6 linked regions of the Homo sapiens genome follow. The protein of the gene in region 1 purifies or fractionates together with the protein of each later gene. This does not show direct contact. Each region holds a gene or a part of one and is shown in the gene's direction. Other genes may lie near its edges. The genes, in order: PARM1, SCCPDH, GALNT16, STEAP2, ERGIC2 and ORC4.

The links.
Region 2: the proteins of PARM1 (region 1) and SCCPDH purify together in Homo sapiens (affinity purification with mass spectrometry; one large-scale study listed by BioGRID and IntAct). This does not show direct contact.
Region 3: the proteins of PARM1 (region 1) and GALNT16 purify together in Homo sapiens (affinity purification with mass spectrometry; one large-scale study listed by BioGRID and IntAct). This does not show direct contact.
Region 4: the proteins of PARM1 (region 1) and STEAP2 purify together in Homo sapiens (affinity purification with mass spectrometry; one large-scale study listed by BioGRID and IntAct). This does not show direct contact.
Region 5: the proteins of PARM1 (region 1) and ERGIC2 purify together in Homo sapiens (affinity purification with mass spectrometry; one large-scale study listed by BioGRID and IntAct). This does not show direct contact.
Region 6: the proteins of PARM1 (region 1) and ORC4 purify together in Homo sapiens (affinity purification with mass spectrometry; one large-scale study listed by BioGRID and IntAct). This does not show direct contact.

The regions. Positions count from the first base shown.
Region 1 is NC_000004.12:75,027,116-75,030,615, forward strand, and holds part of PARM1 (prostate androgen-regulated mucin-like protein 1 precursor), read left to right. Parts: intron 1-3,500.
Region 2 is NC_000001.11:246,762,409-246,765,522, forward strand, and holds part of SCCPDH (saccharopine dehydrogenase-like oxidoreductase), read left to right. Parts: intron 1-1,837; coding exon 1,838-1,949; intron 1,950-3,114.
Region 3 is NC_000014.9:69,322,658-69,326,157, forward strand, and holds part of GALNT16 (polypeptide N-acetylgalactosaminyltransferase 16), read left to right. Parts: intron 1-2,034; coding exon 2,035-2,133; intron 2,134-2,679; coding exon 2,680-2,747; intron 2,748-3,304; coding exon 3,305-3,370; intron 3,371-3,500. UniProt on the Homo sapiens protein: Catalyzes the initial reaction in O-linked oligosaccharide biosynthesis, the transfer of an N-acetyl-D-galactosamine residue to a serine or threonine residue on the protein receptor.
Region 4 is NC_000007.14:90,218,240-90,221,739, forward strand, and holds part of STEAP2 (metalloreductase STEAP2), read left to right. Parts: intron 1-3,500. UniProt on the Homo sapiens protein: Integral membrane protein that functions as a NADPH-dependent ferric-chelate reductase, using NADPH from one side of the membrane to reduce a Fe(3+) chelate that is bound on the other side of the membrane.
Region 5 is NC_000012.12:29,346,673-29,350,172, reverse strand, and holds part of ERGIC2 (endoplasmic reticulum-Golgi intermediate compartment protein 2), read left to right. Parts: intron 1-104; coding exon 105-160; intron 161-995; coding exon 996-1,094; intron 1,095-3,500. UniProt on the Homo sapiens protein: Possible role in transport between endoplasmic reticulum and Golgi.
Region 6 is NC_000002.12:147,951,238-147,954,737, reverse strand, and holds part of ORC4 (origin recognition complex subunit 4), read left to right. Parts: intron 1-2,213; coding exon 2,214-2,365; intron 2,366-3,500. UniProt on the Homo sapiens protein: Component of the origin recognition complex (ORC) that binds origins of replication. DNA-binding is ATP-dependent. The specific DNA sequences that define origins of replication have not been identified yet.

The DNA.
Region 1 (3,500 bases):
ACCATTCCACCCACAGGCAGAAATACAGAGGCTGGCACTACTCACCTCTCTTACCTCCCTGCCTGCCTATCCCATCCAATCCTGCCCACCCCAGAATGGTTCCCGGGGCCTGACACTTGTCTCCGCCATGGAGTGGTGAAACCTCAGGGCCCCTGCCTATTGGGTCTCTACACACCACACTGTCCTGGCTTAAGGTGAGCCCATGGAGCTCATTCGGGAGAGGCTTGTAGGGTGGATTTGGGGTAAGAGGGAGGAGACGAGATGTGCTTCCCCTGGCATGGGGTGGAATGGAAAGAAGAATGGGCATGAAATCCAAGCAGACAAGGCCAGAAGACAAAGAGACTTCCAATAATGGTAAAATTAAGATCTACCTAGGTTGCAGTGTCTAAGAACTAAGGTTTTCTTTTCTCACTTTCTCTCCATCTCACAAACTACACCCCACTCCCACTACCACCCCACTAGAAGCAAATTGCAGTTACCATGTACCCTGGGTTATTTAACACACTGAAATGAACAGCATTTGGCAGGATTCTGAGCAGTTATTTTGCACCACAGCACACACTAGAAACCAATGACCTGAACGATCTAAGGTTGCTGTTCTAGAACTGTTGTCTGCTTCTAACTAGCCCTCTTCCCAATTAATTTGAATTATTGAGCTTCATTCTTCCTTCACCAGTATGTACAAGAGGACCCAAGCCATCACACAGCCTAAGGCAGGCCCTGATTCCTGGGCAGCTAACAGAAAGCAGACAGAGGATGTACCAGAGCTGTAGGTTTTATTTAAAAGCAGTTGAGGATTTAGTACTAGAGCCCAGGGTGGCAGGAGAGCCTAGTGGGCAACACATGGACTCTCGAACCTGTGCTTGTATCCCAGTTCTTCTACTTAGCAGTTCTGTGGCTTTGGGTCCTTAGCATCTCTGTGACTCAGTTTCCCCAACTGTAAAATGGAGATAACAAGAATACCTACTTTCTCATGAGGATTAAATGAACTGAAATAAGTGAAGCTCATAGAACAGTCCCTGGCACACAGTAAGTAACAGGAAAGTGTTAGTTGCTATTATTTTTGTTGTCGTTGATTTCTCCTGCTATTACTGTTGTTCTTTGGAGGAAGGAGACATGATCTGATGCTCTTGCTGTGAGAATGAAGAGCCTAGCATAATAAATAGAGATTCGGCACACACAGAGTTCTAACTGTCAAGCCCTCGCCAGTCGCCCACTTCCCTCCTCCAGCACATCCACAGATACATGCTTTTAAAGAGAAAGAATTCCTCTGAGACAAAATGTTCCTTTCCTCTTGGTGACCTTGACTGAAGGAGCTGCGGCACACCCTGAAGTGGCCACCTGCTCCTCTTCTCCAATTCTTACCTAATCTCTGGACCAGGAAGTGGAAAGAAAAGCGCAAGAATATTGAAAAACAGTCAAGAGGTTTGTTAAAGACTCTTCTCAAAATAGATCAGAGGCATGCACACATACTCAGGAACTTGGTCAAGTATTTACACGCACCTTCTAAATAAGCTGACTGGTGAATTTTCAAGGAGAATGTAGCTCAGGAGTCATCTATGGATAGCAGTGAGACACTCACCTCTTTTTCACCTCTGGAAACTTTCCACCATCACCTCCTCCACCCCCAGCTCTCTCAGAGTAACAACAACTTCTTTAAAGAGCCCAGCAAAGTTATTTCTTCAGAGGTTGTTTGGGTTCATCCCATCATGTCCTAATATTTACATTTTGGATACAATTGGTGAATATTAATATTTTTTCCAAAGAGCTCAAATAAAATGTTTATTTCATGTTTAAAGTGAAATAAAAAGAAAATCCCTCAATGAGAAGAGTCCCTAGAGGAACATTTGAGGTTTGAGAATATTGCTAAGCCCAGGAATATAGAAGGACCCTTTTGGTCAAGTGAGAGGCAGGAGGCTTGGACATGAACAGAACCCCTTCTGAGTGTGTGATCAAGAAAAGGGGCCCATCTGTGTGGCGTGCGGGCCCATGGGGATGTGTGAGTGTGGGGAGAGAGACTCTTAAATGATGCCACAGTTGATTCCTGGACTGCCTCAGGGTATAGAACAGAGCTAAAGCAGGGAAAGGAATACCCCCAAAGGCAGCCTCCTTCCTCAGGGTTGTAGAGCAGTGGAGTAGTGGCCGACAAGGCTGACCAGGAGTTTACTCTGGCTGCTTCCAGGATGTTATCTGACTCTATTTAGACAATTATTCCTTGGTATGGTTTGGCTGTGTGTCCCCACCCAAATCTTACCTTGAATTGTAATAATCCCCATGTGTCATGGGAGGGACCCAGTGGGAGGTAATGGAATCATGGGGGTGAGTTTTACCCATGCTGTTCTCGTGATAGTGAAGATCTGATGGTTTTATAAAAAGAAGTTACCCTGCCCATGCTCTCTTGCCTGCCACCATGTAAGACATGCCTTTCACCTTCCACCATGATTGTGAGGCCTCCCCAGCCATGTGGAACTGTGAGTCCATTAAACCTTTTTTTATATATAAATTACCATCTTGAGTATGCCTTTGTTAGCAGCATGAGAATGGACTAATTCATTCCTAAAAGAACTCTCCTCCAACTAACCACCTTGGTCACTGATGGGGACTTTCAAGTGCACAGTGAGAAGGGCAGGGGGCTGGGGAGGTGGGATCATAGATGTAATCATAGGAGTAGGTACTCAGGTAAGAACTGGAGCAGGTGATTCCAAGGTGAATAGGTGGTGAGTCAGCTGTGTGGAAACTTTTTTAGGACAATGATTAGGCTAAAAAAAAAAAAAATTCTGGTAATCTTTTTTAAGCTAAAAGTATATTTGTTTATTCAACATTAAATACATGAGTTAAGTACCCACTGTGGGCCAAAGATGGTGCCTTAAGCTAACAGTGCACAAAGAAATGGGAAGAGATGCAAGATGGCCATGAATAGAAATGACCTAGGGAAGCACATAAACATAATACAGAATGCTTGAAAGAAATTGATGCTGAGATCTGAGAACACAGAGCAACACTGTAATTTTACCCAGGGGTGTCAGGGAAAACGGCTCAGAAGAGTTGCTATTTAGCTAGATAGTGAAGAAGAATAGGAGCTGGCCAGGCTAAGAAAAGTTAATGATTAAAAATGCAAAACCAGGACTAAATAGTACTGGGTCCAAATGATAGTTCAATCATTTACCACATGTAAAACCTTAATCTCTCTGAGCCTTAACTTCCTCATCTATAAAATGGGAATAATTCTGCCCACCTTGTAAAGAGAATTAAATAAGATGATAGCTGTACAGTTTTGTGCATAGTCTCAGCCCAAAGTAATCATCTGCAAATGGTAGCTATGGTTATTCTTTAGCCCATTTATTCTGGTCCTGGGCCATTAAAAAAAAGTGGCAAAATGCAACCCTGAGGAATTCCAGACTTCAGGGAGGCCCAAAATTCAAAGAGGTTTTGGTTCACAGGCCTTCACCAGCCCTCTGGATAGGCAGAACATGTTGGTAGAGTGAAACGTGCTAGCACAG
Region 2 (3,114 bases), on another chromosome or scaffold:
TACGGTTTCTTTCTAATCTGTCTTCCCACTGCTGTCCAAGAGATCTTTCTAAGACACAAAATCTGACCTTGTCATTGCCTTCTTTATAAAATGTTCCTGGCCCACTGCTTTGGCAGTGATTCTTAACTGAGATTTCATATATCAGAATCATGGCCGGGCGCAGTGGCTCACACCTGTAATCCCAGCACTTTGGGAGGCTGAGGGAGGTGGATCACTTAAGGTCAGGAGTTCAAGACCAGCCTGGCCAACAGGTGAAACTTCATCTCTACTAAAAATACAGAAATTAGCTGGACATGGTGGTGCACGCCTGTAGTCCCAGCTACTCAGGAGGCTGAGGCAGGAGAATTGCTTGAACTCAGGAGGTGGAGCTTGCAGTGAGCTGAGATCACACCACTGCACTCCAGCCTGGGCAACACAGCGAGATTCCTTCTCCAAAAAAAAAAAAAAAAAAAAAGAATCACCTAGGAAGCTTTTTTCACTGACACATGCCCTCATCTTGCTTCTGGACGTTCTGATTCAGTAGGTCTGGAGTGGGGCCTGAAAGCATAGAGCAGTGGTTCCCAACTTTGGAAGAGAACCCAAAACAGATGACCAGAGACTCTGGTTCGGTTGGTCTGGAATGCAGCCTGGGCACTGGGGCTCTCTAAATCTGCCCAGTGATGCTAATGTGCTGCCAGGGTTGAGAATCACCACTGCGGAGGAAGGAAGAAGGTTCCAGATTTGAGTGGTTTTGGTACCCACCCCTGGAGCACAAATGGCCGAAAGTCCATCTTCAGAGATGTGAGGCCATCCTAGACCCTTCATGATCTAGTTCTGGATAGCACATAGGATTCATTTTTCATCCAACTTTGATTAATTGATAGTAGCCACCCAGAGACTATGCTGGGTCGGACAATGTGTGTAGCCTGAGAGAGGATTAGAACCCATTAGTGTGGGCGCCATAGCAGGAGATGGGACAGGTGTGGCATGTGTGTCTGACCTTGTCTGTACCTCTTGAATTGTATGTTCTGGAAAGGCTATGCTACTGCATCCCTTCTTCCCTTTAAATAATGGGTTCTCCTTTCTGGAATCCATCTACTTTTGGGGTTTTAAAACAACCATTAAAATGTGTTTGTGTGTGTGTATATATACAGTTCAGAACCATTGCCCTCTGCCCTGGTAGATTAATAACACCCTCCTCTGAGTTATGCCTGTATGTTTTAGTTCATGTCACATTGTTATTTAATCTGTTTATCTCTCTCTCCCCCCCTTTCCTCCTACTAAACTGTAAGCTCCAGCAAAGGCAGTAATTATGTCTCAGGGCCTCAATGGTATCTGACCCTTAGTTGATACTTCATAAAAATGTGTTGATCATGATTGAATTCTTTATCACCTCATTCCTAAATTTAGTGATTGTGAAAGATGCTAGGATAAGTCCTCAAGAATTTAGTTTTTTGAGTCGAATTTTTACATCTTTAAGTGGAACAATTATATACCTATACTCCAGGCCCATATTTCCATTACTTGCTGGCTATTTTTGTCTTGTCGCCTCAAATAGGTATCTAAAACCAGATTTCTATATTCTGCCCCCCGATAAAAACTATCTCCAGATCATCTTTATTTCCTCCCTATTTCTTACCACTCCCCTTCCCCCCAACATCACGCCAGTCTTCAAAACTGACAGCTTCAAAGAATTAGTTTTCGCTCCCTGCTTAAATGATGACGGGATATTCTGGCAGATAAAATAATGTTTTCATCTATTGACAATGTCTCACTTGAAATAGAATAGTCGGTTTTACTATGTTCCAGGAGGAAATGACGTATTTATGAAATGCGCCCTTTGCCTTCTCCTTCACAGATTGATGCTGCCTCATTCACGCTGACATTCTTTGGTCAAGGATACAGCCAAGGCACTGGTACAGATAAGAACAAACCAAATATCAAAATTTGTACTCAGGTGAAAGGACCAGGTATTTCACATATCACTTAAGAATGCTTGGGAATTTTATACTCTTAAGCTATAAAGTACAATGCCATTACAATATATTCTTTTTAAAGCTTAATTGTTTTAGAAATACATTTGTACAAATTAAGTAACTTAAAATTATTCTGTCAAAGGAAGATTGAAATTATTGATATAATCCAATTTTATTAGTGCATCCCTCCCTCTGGCTGTTTTTGGAGTATGATTCAGTAATTCAGAATGGCAAATTTTAATTAGTATTAATAGGAAAAGGGATTGGTTGATATTCACCTGTTTGAATCTCATATGCAAGTAGTGTAATTATAATGTCAGTCAAATCTGTGCTCTAGGATTTCTTTAGAGTCTCTGAACACCCTGACATTGTTTGTAAAATATGTATGCACACGTGCACTTTTCAAGGGAAGGGAATGGCTTCTGATAGGTTGTTAAAAGAATGTTGCCCAAAACGTTCAAGAACTTTTGCTGTACATTTTACAGAACTATGCAGAGACAGACAGGTCCACTTGTGAACTGTGGTATAATTACTGTCAGAGACAGACAGGTCCACTTGTGAACTGTGGTATAATTACTGTCAGAGACAGACAGGTCCACTTGTGAACTGTAGTATAATTACTGTCAGAGACAGACAGGTCCACTTGTGAACTGTGGTATAATTACTGTCAGAGACAGACAGGTCCACTTGTGAACTGTGGTATAATTACTGTCAGAGACAGACAGGTCCACTTGTGAACTGTGGTATAATTACTGTCAGAGACAGACAGGTCCACTTGTGAACTGTGGTATAATTACTGTCAGAGACAGACAGGTCCACTTGTGAACTGTGGTATAATTACTGTCAGAGACAGACAGGTCCACTTGTGAACTGTAGTATAATTACTGTCAGCCCTTTTAGGTCACAGGCTATAATTTTTTATTGAGACGGGGTCTCACTATGTTGCCTAGGCTGGGCTCAAGCAGTCCTCCTGCCTCAGCCTTCTAAAGGGTTGGGATTACAGGCATGAATTGCCATGCCTGGCCCACGGGGGATTTTAATCAAGCCAGATGATAGTATGTTTCCATCTTGCCCTTTTCTGAAATTCCCACCTGACTTTTTAAGGTAAGTTGACTGTATTTTCATTATTTGACAGGATTATAAATGCTAATGTTCCGTT
Region 3 (3,500 bases), on another chromosome or scaffold:
GAGGTGGGTGGATCATTTGAGGTCAGGAGTTCAAGACCAGCCTGCCTATCATGGTGAAACCCTGTCTCTACTAAAATACAAAAATTAGCTGGGTGTGGTGGTGGGCACCTGTAATCTCAGCTACTCGGGAGGCTAAGGCAGGAGAATCTCTTGAACCTGGGAGGCAGAGGTTGCAGTGAGCCAAGATCGCAGTACCGTACTCCAGCCTGGGTGCCAGAGTAAGGCTCCGTCTCAAAAAAGAAAAAAGAAAGCTGAGGTGGCTCACGGGGTGTGTGTGTGTGTGTGTGTGTGTGTGTGTGTGTGTGTGTGTGTGTGTGTGTGTGTGCGCGCGCACGCGCGCACGCATGCACACGTGTAGGGAAGCAAAGGACGTGCTGGCTTTAGTGGGCAGGCCTCCTGCCATGGTGGGGCCAGTTTGCTGGTAGAAGCTGCTCTTCCTTGCAGCCCTGCAGGCTGTAGTGTCCGCTGGACTCCAAATTGTCAGGTTCATTTCTGGTCCAGCCTCAATCTAGGGAGCCCGCTCCAGGGGAGCAAAGGGACATAAACCACATAAGACAGGCCGAGGAGGATCACAGAGAAAACCCCATCAGCTCCAAACTCAAAACTCAGGGCTGGGACAAACCCCTTTAGAGGCTCCTGGCTCCTGGGAGCCAGATAAACCCCCATGCTAAGTAACATCAATCCCAGAGGCATGCATGCCGAAAGGGCTGGAGGGAGCCGGTGGGGAGGTCAAGTTCACCCTTCAGATGGGGTGTGGGTGGGTTTGCCCCCTTCAGGGAGACGTCACTGTCCCGATTCCCTCCTTTCTGGGCACCGGATGGTTGGGGGATCAGGACAGAGGACTGGGGCCCTGGAGGTCAGCACTGGGAGGGTGCACACTTAGGAGGTATTTGCTGCTCCCAGCACACCCCAGCTCAGCCGGCCAAGCTCACTCCCTCCCCCACAATTCATAGGCCCTTGAACAGCATGGTTTCTCAAGGGGTAGAAGGCAAATTTCCCTCCGCCACCACTACCCTACACCCCCTCTCAAGGAGAATTATTGCACAGCCTCTCAAGATTTCCCCCAGGGGGGTCCCAGGCTAGTGGGACTCCTGCCTGTCTGACCTGGTCTGCTCTGCAGGGCAGGAAACAGGCCTGGGAATTCGGGCTGTAAGCTGCTGTCAGTAGAATGAATGCCACAATGAAAAAACGGGCACTGGTGGAATAGTCAGAGAGCAATTGTAATAAAGAAGATTGCTATGAAAACCAGCAACGGAGGCCACCTTCCAGCACCCCAGGAGCTCAAATAAATGCATACGCAGAAACAACAGGGATGAAGTCTGGCAGGAATGAATTGTTTTCACTCCCTTTCTAGAGGAGAGGGAGCCAGTAGGCCAGAAAATGTGGTGTCTATGGATGGCTGGGGAGGGAGGAAGTGACGGGATAGGCCTTTGGTGTCTTAACAGAGGCTTGTTTCCTCCAGGGGACCCAGTACCCTGGGAGGAGTGAGACTGCTCCCCAGCTTGTTGTCTGCAGCAGGGCTGTCAGTGTTGGGCAGTGACAGGGAGGAATTCCCTGGCAGCCAGGGTAGGGGTGATTCCTCTGCAGATTCTACCAAATGTCCTGAGCTGGGAAGAGAGAAGGAAGAAACTCTAGGGTATCAGGACAAACAGAGGTAGTTTTCCCTCTCGCACATACCCCCCACCATACGACAGAGTGTGGTCAGGGCTGTATCCTGGGGCCTGGTGCAGTATCTGTATATACTAGGGAGCCCCCTCTGGGGGCTCTGAGATCTCTGGTAAAGAGCCCCCAGGCCTTGGAAGGTCTCCCAACCTGCTGCTTCCCTCCCAGGACCCCAGGATGGGTGGCATCGGGGTTCTGGGCCAGTGTGGGATGCAGCATGGGGGTGGAGGCGCGGGGCCTCTGGCCTGGCTGTTGGTGTGCCTTCTCTGCCTGGCAGAAGTATTCTCAGGCACAAGACTGGACAAAGAAAAACATTGACCTGCCCTGAGGATGCCCTCATGGCTGGCTCTGACCTCTGTGCTCCCTTCTCAGCTGCCCATCTGTGTCCTACTCCTCGGACCTGCCAGCCACCAGCGTCATCATCACCTTCCACAATGAGGCCCGTTCCACCCTGCTGCGCACAGTGAAGAGGTAAGTCCAGCCATGGGACTCTCATCTCAGTGGTGCTGGCAGGGGAGGACATTGGGATTGGGCGCTGTGGCCAGACAGCTTGAAGCCCAGCAGGTGCTGGAGGCTGAGTCCTGTACTTCTGAGAGGCTGAGACTGGTGAATCAGGGCCAGGAAGACCCCAGAAGTCAAACTGTTAGAGGAATGCGACAGTCAAACACCAGGTCAGATGTCCAGGACAAGGGCAGAAATGCAGGTGTCAGGAGCTGAGGGAGGCCGGGCTAGACAGGAGGCCTCAGGAGGGTGATGGAAGCCCAGCAGTGTCTGTCAGTGTCAGAGAGAGGTGGATTGGAGGTGGATTCTTCCTGCTAAGCCTGGGCTTGTGGTCAAGTTGAACTCCCATCTCCCCATTTCCTCAATGAACTTAGACAAGAATAGGATTCAGGTAGGAGCGCCCAGCATGCTGGCCCTGGAGCTGGGCGGCTGGGGAGTCCCACGGCCCCGGGAGTGGTAAAAATGGGAGGTGGTTCCTAAATCCAGGCTCTTTCTCTGTTTCCACTGCTACTGTAGTGTCCTGAACCGAACTCCTGCCAACTTGATCCAGGAGATCATTTTAGTGGATGACTTCAGCTCAGATCGTGAGTAGTCACCTTCCTTTTTGCAGCCCTCCATTCCGCCCTCGTCCCTGTTTCCCCAGAACACCAAGGCAAGCACCCTGAGGTTGTCCTGACCATCGCAGACACCTTTCTGCCCCCAGCAGGGATCCTGTCTTTTCTAGGACCCCTCCCTGGTCCTGTTCCCTGGTGTCAAAGGAGGGGAAAGAAGGGTGGGTGTTGCTTTGGATGGGACTCTAGTGAGATGATATTGTTTTTAAAAAGTAAAGAAAATCAACAGCATCCTTCATTATTACAACTGCCAAATGCAGATGATAGCTGGGCTGGTAGCCACCCCCAAGCGTGCTTTCTAGTGCTCCCTGAGGTGGAGTGGAGTACTGCCATAGGTACAGGCACTCCTCAGTCTGGCCTGAGAGTGGGGCAGGGCAACCCTTCGGCCAGTAGTGATGACCATACCTCTTCCCAATCCCCATCCCCAACCCTTTCCTGGGCTTAGTATGGGGCAATTTTCATGGCAGCCAAACCACTAGTGGCCTGATGCCCATGTCTAAATGAGCTTGCCTTCCTCTTTGCATCCTCAGCGGAAGACTGTCTACTCCTGACCAGGATCCCCAAGGTCAAGTGCCTGCGCAATGATCGGCGGGAAGGTGAGTCCTTGCACCCTGGGTCCCACCAAGGGCCCATCTTGGTGTCATCCTGTGCACTTCCCCACTCTCTCTTGGTGCCGTGGCACACCAAGCCAACATGGTCCTGCTGCATTCCTGATGGCTGAGACCA
Region 4 (3,500 bases), on another chromosome or scaffold:
TCCTTTGCTGCACGGAAGTCTTTTAGTTTAATATAGTCCCATTTGTCTATTTTTTTGTTGTTGTTGCTGTGCTTTTGAGGTCCTAGCCATAAAATCTTTGCCTAGACCAATGTCTTCAAATATTTCCCCAATGTTTTCTTCTTGAAATGAGGGGTTTTGGGTCTTATGTTTAAGTCTTTAGTTGACCTTGCGTTGATTTTTGTATATGGTGAGGGACAGGGGTCCAGTTTTATTCTTCTGCATACAGATATCCAATTGTCTAAGTACCATATATTTGAAGAGGATATCCTTTCCTCAGTGTATGTTCTTGGTGCCTTTGTTGACAATCAGTTGGCTGTAAATGTGTGGATTTTTTTTGTGGATTATCTAATCTGTTGCATTCATTGATCTGTGCATTTGTTTTTATACCGGTACCATGTTTTTTCGGTTACTATTGCCTTGTAATATATTTTGAAGTCAGGTAGTGTGATGCCTTCAGCTTTGTTCTTTTTGCTTAGGATTGCTGTAGCTATTCAGGATATTTTTTGGTTCTATATGAATTTTAGGATTGTCTTTTCTAATTCTATGAAAAATCACATTGGTATTTTGATAGGGATTGCATTGAATCTGTGTATTGCTTTGGGCAGTATGGTCATTTTAATATTAATTCTTCCAATCCATAAGCATGGAATGTTTTTCCATTCGTTTATGTCATCTTTAATTTTTTTCTACAGTGCTTTGTAGTTTTCCTTGTAGCAAACTTTCACCTCCTTGGTTAAATATATTCCTAGTTGTTTTTTGTTTGTTTTTGTTTTTTTTATAGCTATTGTAAATGGGATTGCCTTCTTGGTGTCTTTTTCAGCAAGTTCATTGTTGGTGTATAGAAATGGTACTGATTTTTGTATGTCGATTTTGTATCCTGCAACTTTATTGAATTTATTTATCAGATCTAAGAGTTTTTGTGTGAAATCTTTAGGTTTATCTAGATCTAAGATCATATCATCAGCAAAGAGGGATAATTTGACCTTCCTCTTTTCCAGTTTGGGTACCTTTTATTCTTTCTCTTTCCTGGTTGCTCTGGCTAGGACTTCCAATATGATGTTGAATAGAAGTGGTGAAAGTGGCATCCTTGTCTTGTTTCTGTTCATAGAGGAAAGGCTTTGAGCTTTTCCCCATTTCAAAATAATGATAGCTATATTATTATTATATAGATCATATAAGCCCTTATTATGTGAAGCATATTTTTTCTATCCCTAGTTTGTTGCAAGTTTTATCATGAGGGGATGCTAAATTTTCTCAAATGTTTTTTCTGCATCTATTGAGATGATCATATGGTTATTGTCCTTCATTCTCTTCAGGTGATGTATCACAGTTGTTGATTTGCATATGTTGAACCATCCTTGTATCCCTGGGATGCATTCCTGGAATAAATCCCCTTTGATCATGATGTGTGTGTGTTTTTTTTATGAGTTGTTAGATTTGGTTTGCTTCTACAGACACACACGCGCGCACACACACAATTTTTAGGAGACAGGGTCTTGCTCTGTTGCCCAGGAGGGAGTGCGGTTATGCAATCATAAATCACTGCAGCCTTCAACTTCTGGGCTCAGGTGATTCTTCTGCCTCAGCTCCCGAGTACTAGGACTTCAGGTGTGTACCACCACACCTAGCTATTGTTTAAATTTTTTGTAGAGACGAGGGTCTCATTATGTTGCCCAGGCTGGGCTTAAACTCCTGGCTTCAATCCATCCTCCTGCATTGGCCTCCCAAAGTGCTGGGATTACAGGCATAAGCCATCATGTCTGGCCCTTGGTTTGCTAGTATTTTGTTGAGAGTTTTTGTATCTGTGCTCATCAGGAATAATAGTATGTAGTTTTCTTTTTTGTTGAGCCTTGTTTGCTTTTGGTGTGAAGATAATGCTGACCTCATAGAATGAGTTAGGCAGAATTCCCTCCTGTTTAATGTTTTGGAAGAGTTTGAAGAGAATTGGTGTTAGGTCTGTTTTGAAAGTTTGGTAGAATTCGGCAGTGAAGCCATCTGGCCCTGGACTTTTCTTTGTTGGGAGTTTTTTAATTACTGCCTCAACTTTTTTTGTTACTGGTCTGTCCAGGTTTTCCATTTCTTCCCATTTCAATCTTGGTAGCTTGTATATGTGTAGCAGTTTATCCATTTCCTCTAGGTTTTCCAGTTTGTTGGTGTATAGTTGTTCATAATAGCTTCTCATGATCTTATGTATTTCTGTGGTATCAATTGTAATGTTTCCTTTTCCATTTCTGATTTTTTATTGGAGTATTTCCTCTTTTTTCTTGGTTAGTCTAGCAAGTGCTTTATCAATTTTATCTTTTCAAAAAACAAAACTTTTTGTTTCATCCATCCTTTGTATTGTTTTTTAAGTCCCAATTTGTCTAGTTCTGCTCTGATCTTTATTATTACTTTCCTTTTACCAATTTGGGGTTTGGCTTGTTTTTGCTTTTCTAGTTCCTTGAGGTACATCATTAAGTTGTTTATTTGAAATCGTAATGATTTTTTGGTGTAGGTGCTTGTTGATATAAGCTTCCATCTTAGCACTGCTTTTGCTGTATCTCATGGGTTTCAGTGTGTTGTGTTTTTATTTTTATTTGTTGAGGGAAATTTTTTGATTTCTTCCTTAATTTATTCTTTGCCCCCGTAGTCATTTAGGAGCATGTTGTTTAATCATTTATTTTTACAGTTTCAAAAGTTCCTCATGTTGTTGACTTCTAGTTTTATTCCATTGTGGTCTGAGGAAGTACTTGATATGACTTCGATTTTTAAAAAATTTGTTGAATCTTATTTTGTGTTCTAACATGGTCATTCCTAGAGAATGTCTATGTGCTGATGAGAATTTGTATTCTGTAACTGTTGTATAAAATGTTCTGTGAATGTTTGTTAGGTCCATTTGGTCTAACGTATAGTTTAAATTCAATGTTTCTTTGTTAATTTTCTGTCTAGATTATCTGTCAGATGCTGGCAGGCGGTGTTGAAGTCCCCAAATGTTGTTGTATTGGCGTCTGTTTCTCCTTTTAGATCTGATAACACTTTATTTATATTAATATATCTGAGTGGTCTGTTGTTGGGTGTATATATGTTTAGAATTGTTATATCCTCTTGCTAGAATTTATCTATTATCATTATATAATGACCTTCATTGTCTCTTTATACTGTTTTTGACTCAAACTGTTTTATTTGATATAAGTATAGTGACTTTTGGTTTCCATTTGCATGGACTATCTTTCTCCATCCCTTTGCTTTCAGTCTTATATGTGTTTTTATATGTTAGATGGGTTTCTTGTACCCAGCATATACTTGGGTTATGATTTTTTATCTATTACTAGTCCATATCTTTTCAGTGGAAAGTTTAATCCATTTGCATTCAAAGTTATTCAACAATGAAAACTTCCCAAGTCTAGTGAGAGATGTAGACACCCGGATACAGGTAACTTAGAGATCTCCAAACAGATACAATACAAGAAGGTCTTCCCCACAGCACATTATAGTCATAT
Region 5 (3,500 bases), on another chromosome or scaffold:
TGTACTAAGAAAAATTATATAACTTAGGGAAGATCCAGTTTCTGATTTTAATTAATTATACATATAAATGGTACTACTTTAATAATTGTTTTTTCTCCTTTCAGGGCAATTCCACATCCTCGTGGTCATGCACATTTGGCAGCACTTGTCAACCATGAATGTAAGCAGATTCTGACTTTTTTTCAGTAAAGATGTACTTGAAAAAATATTATTTTTAAAAGTGCAGATATAGTGTAGTTGAAAGTGAGCTGTTTTGAAAACATATTCATCCAAAGGAAAAAATAAATTTTTAAATTGATTTACTTTAATCTGCATTTGTATTTGGTCATGGCTCTGAGTTGCTGAGGTTAGGGAGGAAAGCCTAGTGTACTTTCTATAACTTTGTACACATTTCTGCTAATTTTTAGGGATAAAGAAAATAATATATTTGCAGTTTATTTCAATTTGCAAATTGAAATATGGATGTATAGACATGTATAAAGTATTCAGGTTAGTTTGGTATCATGATTGTCTTAAGACTTAAGTTCTTAAAGTCTGCTTTAGAGGACAAAACAAGTAATGGATTCCACAGAAAATTAGTTTGGTCACATTTAGCAATAGTGTATTAAAAATATATCTGATCAGTTTTATTATATGGCCACATGGCCATCATTCCAATTCTAACAATACCGTCCTGTTAACTATATGATGATTTGGAAAAGGAAAGATGTATATTTTTGGCTTTCATTATATATTAATATTTTCTAGACGTTAAATTGTATATAATTATTAAATTTGAGATATAGCATTTTGTCAGAATTTATTTTATACATTTAATTCGCATATATTTACATTTATTTTTCTCAAAGTATTGTGGCTTAAAATACTGTATTATTATCCTTGAAGATTTTAAACATTTTCATTTGAGAATAGATAAGGATGTAAACCAGTCTGTACCAAGTAATTTTGAATAATATAATTTCTCTGCTAAGTTGTTTTTATTTTTTGCCTTTTAGCTTACAATTTTTCTCATAGAATAGATCATTTGTCTTTTGGAGAGCTTGTTCCAGCAATTATTAATCCTTTAGATGGAACTGAAAAAATTGCTATAGATCGTAAGTATTTAATAATTATTGTTGGATTTTACATGTAGAAAATTTTGCTTATAACCTGAATATTAATACATTTTTAATGTCTTCCTAACTACTGTGTAAAGATAATCTTTAAGTGGTTGGTGATTGAGATGTATGTGAAGAGAATTTGTCCTAGTAGTGGATGAAATTTGAATATTCAAAAATGAGCCATAGAACAGAATAAAGAAATTCAAGTTAAAAGATGAAGGAATTAAAAGGCAGAAGGAGTTCAATTTAAACAGTAGAAATAGATGAAAGGTTAATACATTAACAGGGCATAACTGCACTTTTTTGTATTCACCAAAGAATAAGAATGAAAAAAAGGTTCAACATTATGAGAAGAATTTTCTTCTTTGTATAATATAGGTTCAAAGTTTTAAAATGCATATATATCATTTCAGAAACCTCTCTGGAGAATTTTACAAACACCAGAAACCTAGTTATTCTGGAATGGTTTGGTTATTAACATAGAAGGAGTACATTATAGCACAGATAACCTTTTTAAAATGTTCTATTTAACCTTCTGCTCCATTTAAAGTATCAAGTCTATCCAAATATGGAAAGATCATTTTCTTAGTTTTTTAGAAAGTAGTCTGTTCTCATGTTTTCTGCAGGTTTTTGATTGCCTCTTTCTAAAATAGTCATATTATATACCATGTTCCAGCTATTGGACATTTTAAGGACTTCTGAAGCTTGTTCAGCTAGTAGGAATTCTATCCTTTGTAAAATTGTAATTAAGGATTTAGTTTTTTATTAATTTAAGTAGATTTATTAATATCCTATTCAGATTTATTCATATTCTTTACTTTTTAGCAGTGTTATAATCATATATTAAAGATGTTTAGAATTTAGAATACTGATTTACATTCATGAATATTTTATGTTCATGTGGGAATGTTTCACTTCAGGAAACCTGAGTGTACTAAATTTAGAAATGTGTGGATGGAAACATTTTGAGATTTATAAGCTTTAGTCAGTATAATCTAATCTGTAATCTAAGCATATGTTAATTCTCCTCTGAAATGCATTGCATGTTACCTGAGAGATGCTCATTTGGAAACATACTGGTCGATGCTTTGTTTCAAGATGCTAAAATGAACTACAAATTTTTGCACAGAAGCTCTTCTAAATATAAACAGGTCAATTTTCAAAAAGCTGTTTTTAAGTGTACTTCTTTATAAATTCAGAGAAACTAAGAGGTATTTAGAGTCATATTCTGAAATGCCGTTAGGTGAGTATCATCAGGTTTTTCAAAGCTTTAAAGCAGTTTGTATACTTTTCTCCTTCGTAATATATGTTTTTTTCAGCCTCTTTTTCCAAAAAGAAAAAAATCAACATTACATATCTGCTATGTCAGGTAGCTATCCCTTTCCTGATGTTCTCCAGAAGTATTGCAGGAGTTACTTAACAATTAACATCTTTAATGCAGTACAGATTTGGATAAACAAGGTAGACATAGTCCCTGCCCTTCATAGAGCGCACGTTCCTATAGGGAATTAGATCTTTAGGTAATAAGTGTTAGGGCAAACGGCTCTGAACAAAATAAAGGAGATTGCCTATGATATGAGAAAGGGCATGGAAGAGGCTGTGGTATTTGAAAAAAACTTGAGTGAAGTAAATAAGTGAGCTAAGCGATTATCTTTTTGAGAGCATTGCAGGCAGCTTTATTATTAATGAAGCCGGTAGAAATAAAACAACCTATATGTGCTGCCACAAACTGGACAACCTAACTCCATACTCCTCCTACCCTGCTGACTTCTCAAATGGCAGGGATGGCTCACTTTCCTAATGGTAGAAGGTGGTTATGTATGTCTTGAAGACAGAGCTGTTTAAGAGAGAGAATGCCTATACTATCTAATTGAGTGGCTTAGCCACACATGATTACTTTTTGCAGATGAATCATTCCTTCCATGAGTGAGAGAGAAGTGGAGAGGAAGGTCAAAGCTTTTACTCTTTTATGTACAAAGGGGTGCAAGCTTCTATTTAAATCTGGGAGAATTTTTTCTGCTTAAATTTAAGACCATATTCCCCTTGAGTGGAACCGCCTGGGTTCAAGTTCTCACTCTGCCACTTAATAACTTGGACTTTGGCCTGTTTCTTAACATCCCTGTACTTGAGTTGCTTCATCTCTAACAAAAGGATAATAAAAACATTTACTTGCTTCTCTAGTTGAATCTATGGATAGGTGTATCTAATTATACTTTTTCTAGAGAATTCTCTAGACCCGGAGAATTAACATGTTTTATATTATGTGAATGGGTAATTGTTTACAGTTAATTAGTAATTGGTAATATTCTGGTATTTAAAACTTGTGTCAAACTTAGAGATGCCTAATGACTGTATAAAAATGATCCTTTTGATTATACAGTAACCCCAGGCCATCATTGA
Region 6 (3,500 bases), on another chromosome or scaffold:
TGAATAATTTTGTTCTTTAATTTGCATAATTCTGGTTACTTAATTTGCATAATTCTGATAGTGGTGATGCTTGTCATTTCATATTTTTATTGACCTTTGAAATTTCCTGGTTTATGTACAGTCATGTGCCACATAACAACCTTTAATTCAATGATAGACCACATATGTGACAGTGGTCCTATTAGATTATAAAACCATATTTTTACTGTACCTTTCCTGTGTTTAGATATGTTTAGATACACAAATACTTCGCATTGTGTTACAGTTGTCTACACTATCACATGCTCATAGGTTCATAGCCTAGGAGCAATAGGCTATGCCATATAGCCTAGGTGTCTAGTAGGCTATACCATCTAGGCTTGGGTAAGTACACTGTTAGGATGCTTGTACAACGATGCAGTCACCTAACAATACATTTCTCAGAACGTATCTCTGTCATTAAGGGACACACGACTGTATTTCCTGTTGGGTCTTTGACCTATTGTGGTAATGTTTATGTTATGCTTATTTATCGGAATTTTTGTGTTTTATTTTTCTCTTCCCTTAAGTTTGGTTTGGACTTTTCTGCTGATCTAAAGTTTTATGTTTTCCACATAGTTAAGTTTATCTAGAAAGTTTTTTCTCTCCTTCAGATTATAAAAACATTCATTGATCCATCTTTTTATTTAATATATATATATATTTGTAATTTATAATTTGTTTGGAATTTATTCTGATTTTACCTGTAAAGTAGGGATCTGACTTTGAATAGACTAATTTTCCCCACTGATGTATAATGCAATATTTTATCAAATACTAAAATTCTATATTAGTACATAAGTCTCTTTCTAGACTTTTGAGTAATCCCTTTGGTTTTGTACCAGTATTAAGTCATTTAGGCTACTGTATTTGTTATTTGTTGAAATAAGTCTTTCTTTTATCAGATATTTGTTTCACTTTTTAACACAAATATAAAGGCGTTAAGCCTAAGGTAAAAGGGATTCTTTTACTAAAGTTGTTTCCATTATTGAAGTGAGAAAAATGTAACCAGAGGGTGATGTGGAACTTTCCCCATGAAAAGCATTGTAGTTGAAATGCTAAAAGTTGTGCTTCAAGGGAGTTTAAGTGGCTTTAGTTGAACTTTATAATCTACAAGTTTGTTTATAAAAAGTATTTCTACAAGAAATGTACCTTGTATTTCTACTAAATAAACAACTCTCTTTTAAAGCATTAGTTTTGTTCATTAATTAGTGACTCCCCTTATATTTTAATCTTAAAGTGTTTTGGTTCTGTGTAGGTATAGAAAACTCTGTCAATTTTATAATCATTAAATAAGAATTATATTTACGTAATTATAAAAATAATAGTCTTTAGTCATTTAAATGATTTTTGACATTTTTCAACAACAAACTCTACTAGAGTCTAGGAACTAGACTGCACTTTTTATTTTTTGGAGATGGAGTTTCACTCTTGTTGCCCAGGCTAGAATACAATGGTGTGATCTCAGCTCACTGCAACCTCTGCCTCCGCAGTTCAAGAGATTCTCCTGCCTCAGCCTCCCAAGTAGCTAATTTTTTTTTTTTTTTTTAATAGCAGAGATGGGGTTTTACCATGTTGGCCAGGCTGGTCTCAAACCCCTGACCTTAGGTGATCCACCTACCTCGGCCTCCCAAAGTGCTGGGATTACAAGCGTGAGTCACCATGCCCGGCCTAGACTGAACTTTTTTTTTTTGAGATGGAGTTTCACTCTCGTTGCCCAGGCTGGAGTGCAGTGGCACGATCTTGGCTCACCACAACCTCTGCCTCCTGGGTTCAAGCAATTCTCCTGCCTCAGCCTCCCGAGTAGCTGGGATTACAGGCATGCGCCACCACACCTGACTAATTTTGTATTTTTAGTAGAGATGGGATTTCTCCATGTTTGTCAGGCTGGTCTCGAACTCCCGACCTCAGGTGATCCACCCACCTCAGCCTCCCAAAGTGCTGGGATTACAGGCATGAGCCACCACGCCCAGCCTAGACTGAACTTCTTGAGAGCAGTCGGGGCTGTGTTTGTCCTTTGAATAATTTTTTTCTGTTGAATGAACGTATATGCATCAGTAAATCCCCTACCCAAAGTAGGCTATCAGAATGTTTACAGAATTGAGTTTTAAAAACTGAAATATAGTAAATGGTTTGGAAATTTAGGAAAGGTGGATATAATTTCTTATTAATGTAATGCTCTTATTTTATCTTAGGTGACCGAACTAGCAGTTGCCCAGTGATCTTCATATTAGATGAATTTGATCTTTTTGCTCATCATAAAAACCAAACACTTCTCTATAATCTTTTTGACATTTCTCAGTCTGCACAGACCCCAATAGCAGTTATTGGTCTTACATGTAGATTGGTAAGTCTTTCTGTTCATTAAAAAAATTGATTATAATATTTTAAAATTCAAGCTTAATTGCTGACACTGCTAGTTTTTTTCACTTATTTAGGTCATTTTAAAAATTTTGTTTCAGCAGTGCCTGGTGTATTTATCCTGCTTTCAACTCAAATTGAGGAAAACAGTTTAGTAGTTACCTTAGCCCATTAATGAATACCTCCCTCCTCCCAGTGAAATTACTGAAGAAAAAAGTATGAAATCAGATTATGCTAATAAATATAATTTCTACATTATCAAGTAATGAGGCGGTTAAATCTCACCAATATTTGAGAAAACTTGGTAATAGTTTTTATTTTAAGATTTTTTTCCATATTTTGAAAAGGCTTGAAATCAACTCTAAGTAATACTATTCCAACTTTCAAAGTACACATCTCCAGAAATGGAAAAGATTCTACCAAGCACTGACAGTAGATAGTGGCTTCTTCATTCCATGGGATATTTTAGAATGATTTTAACTATAGTCTCAATATCACTATCACTTTGCCTTGTGAAGGCTCTGTACATATTGAACCATGTGTACCTTTGGACAGCAGTACAGGCCTTTTTGTGTTTACCTTCTTACACGCATGTAGTATTAACTTACTGAATTCAGATAAAACTGGTATTGAAGAGTGCCTTGGCCCATTTTGTGTTGCTATAACATAATACCTGAGACTTGGTAATTTTTAAAGAAAAGAAGTTTATTTATCTCACAGTTCTGCAGGCTGAAAAATTCAAGCGCATGGCACTGGCTTTGTTGCAAGGGTTTTCATGCTGCATGACATGGTGGAAGGTCAAATGGGGAACCGAAATGTGCAAAAACGAACCAGATAGGAGTTGGAACCTCAATTTATAACAACTCACTGTCTCAAGAACTAATCTATCCCCATGAGAACAAGAACTCACTCCAGTAAGAAGGCATTAAATCTATTTATGAGGGTCCACTCCAGTGACTTCCCACTGTTGCACTGGCAATTAAATTTCAACATGAGATTTGGTGGGGACAAACCATATCCAAACCATAGCAAAGTTGTCTCTTTTCTCATGCTATGACTGCCATGCCTCCATAGCTTTCTTGCAATCCTCTTCCCCCTCCATTCTCGGCAGATGTGTCAGG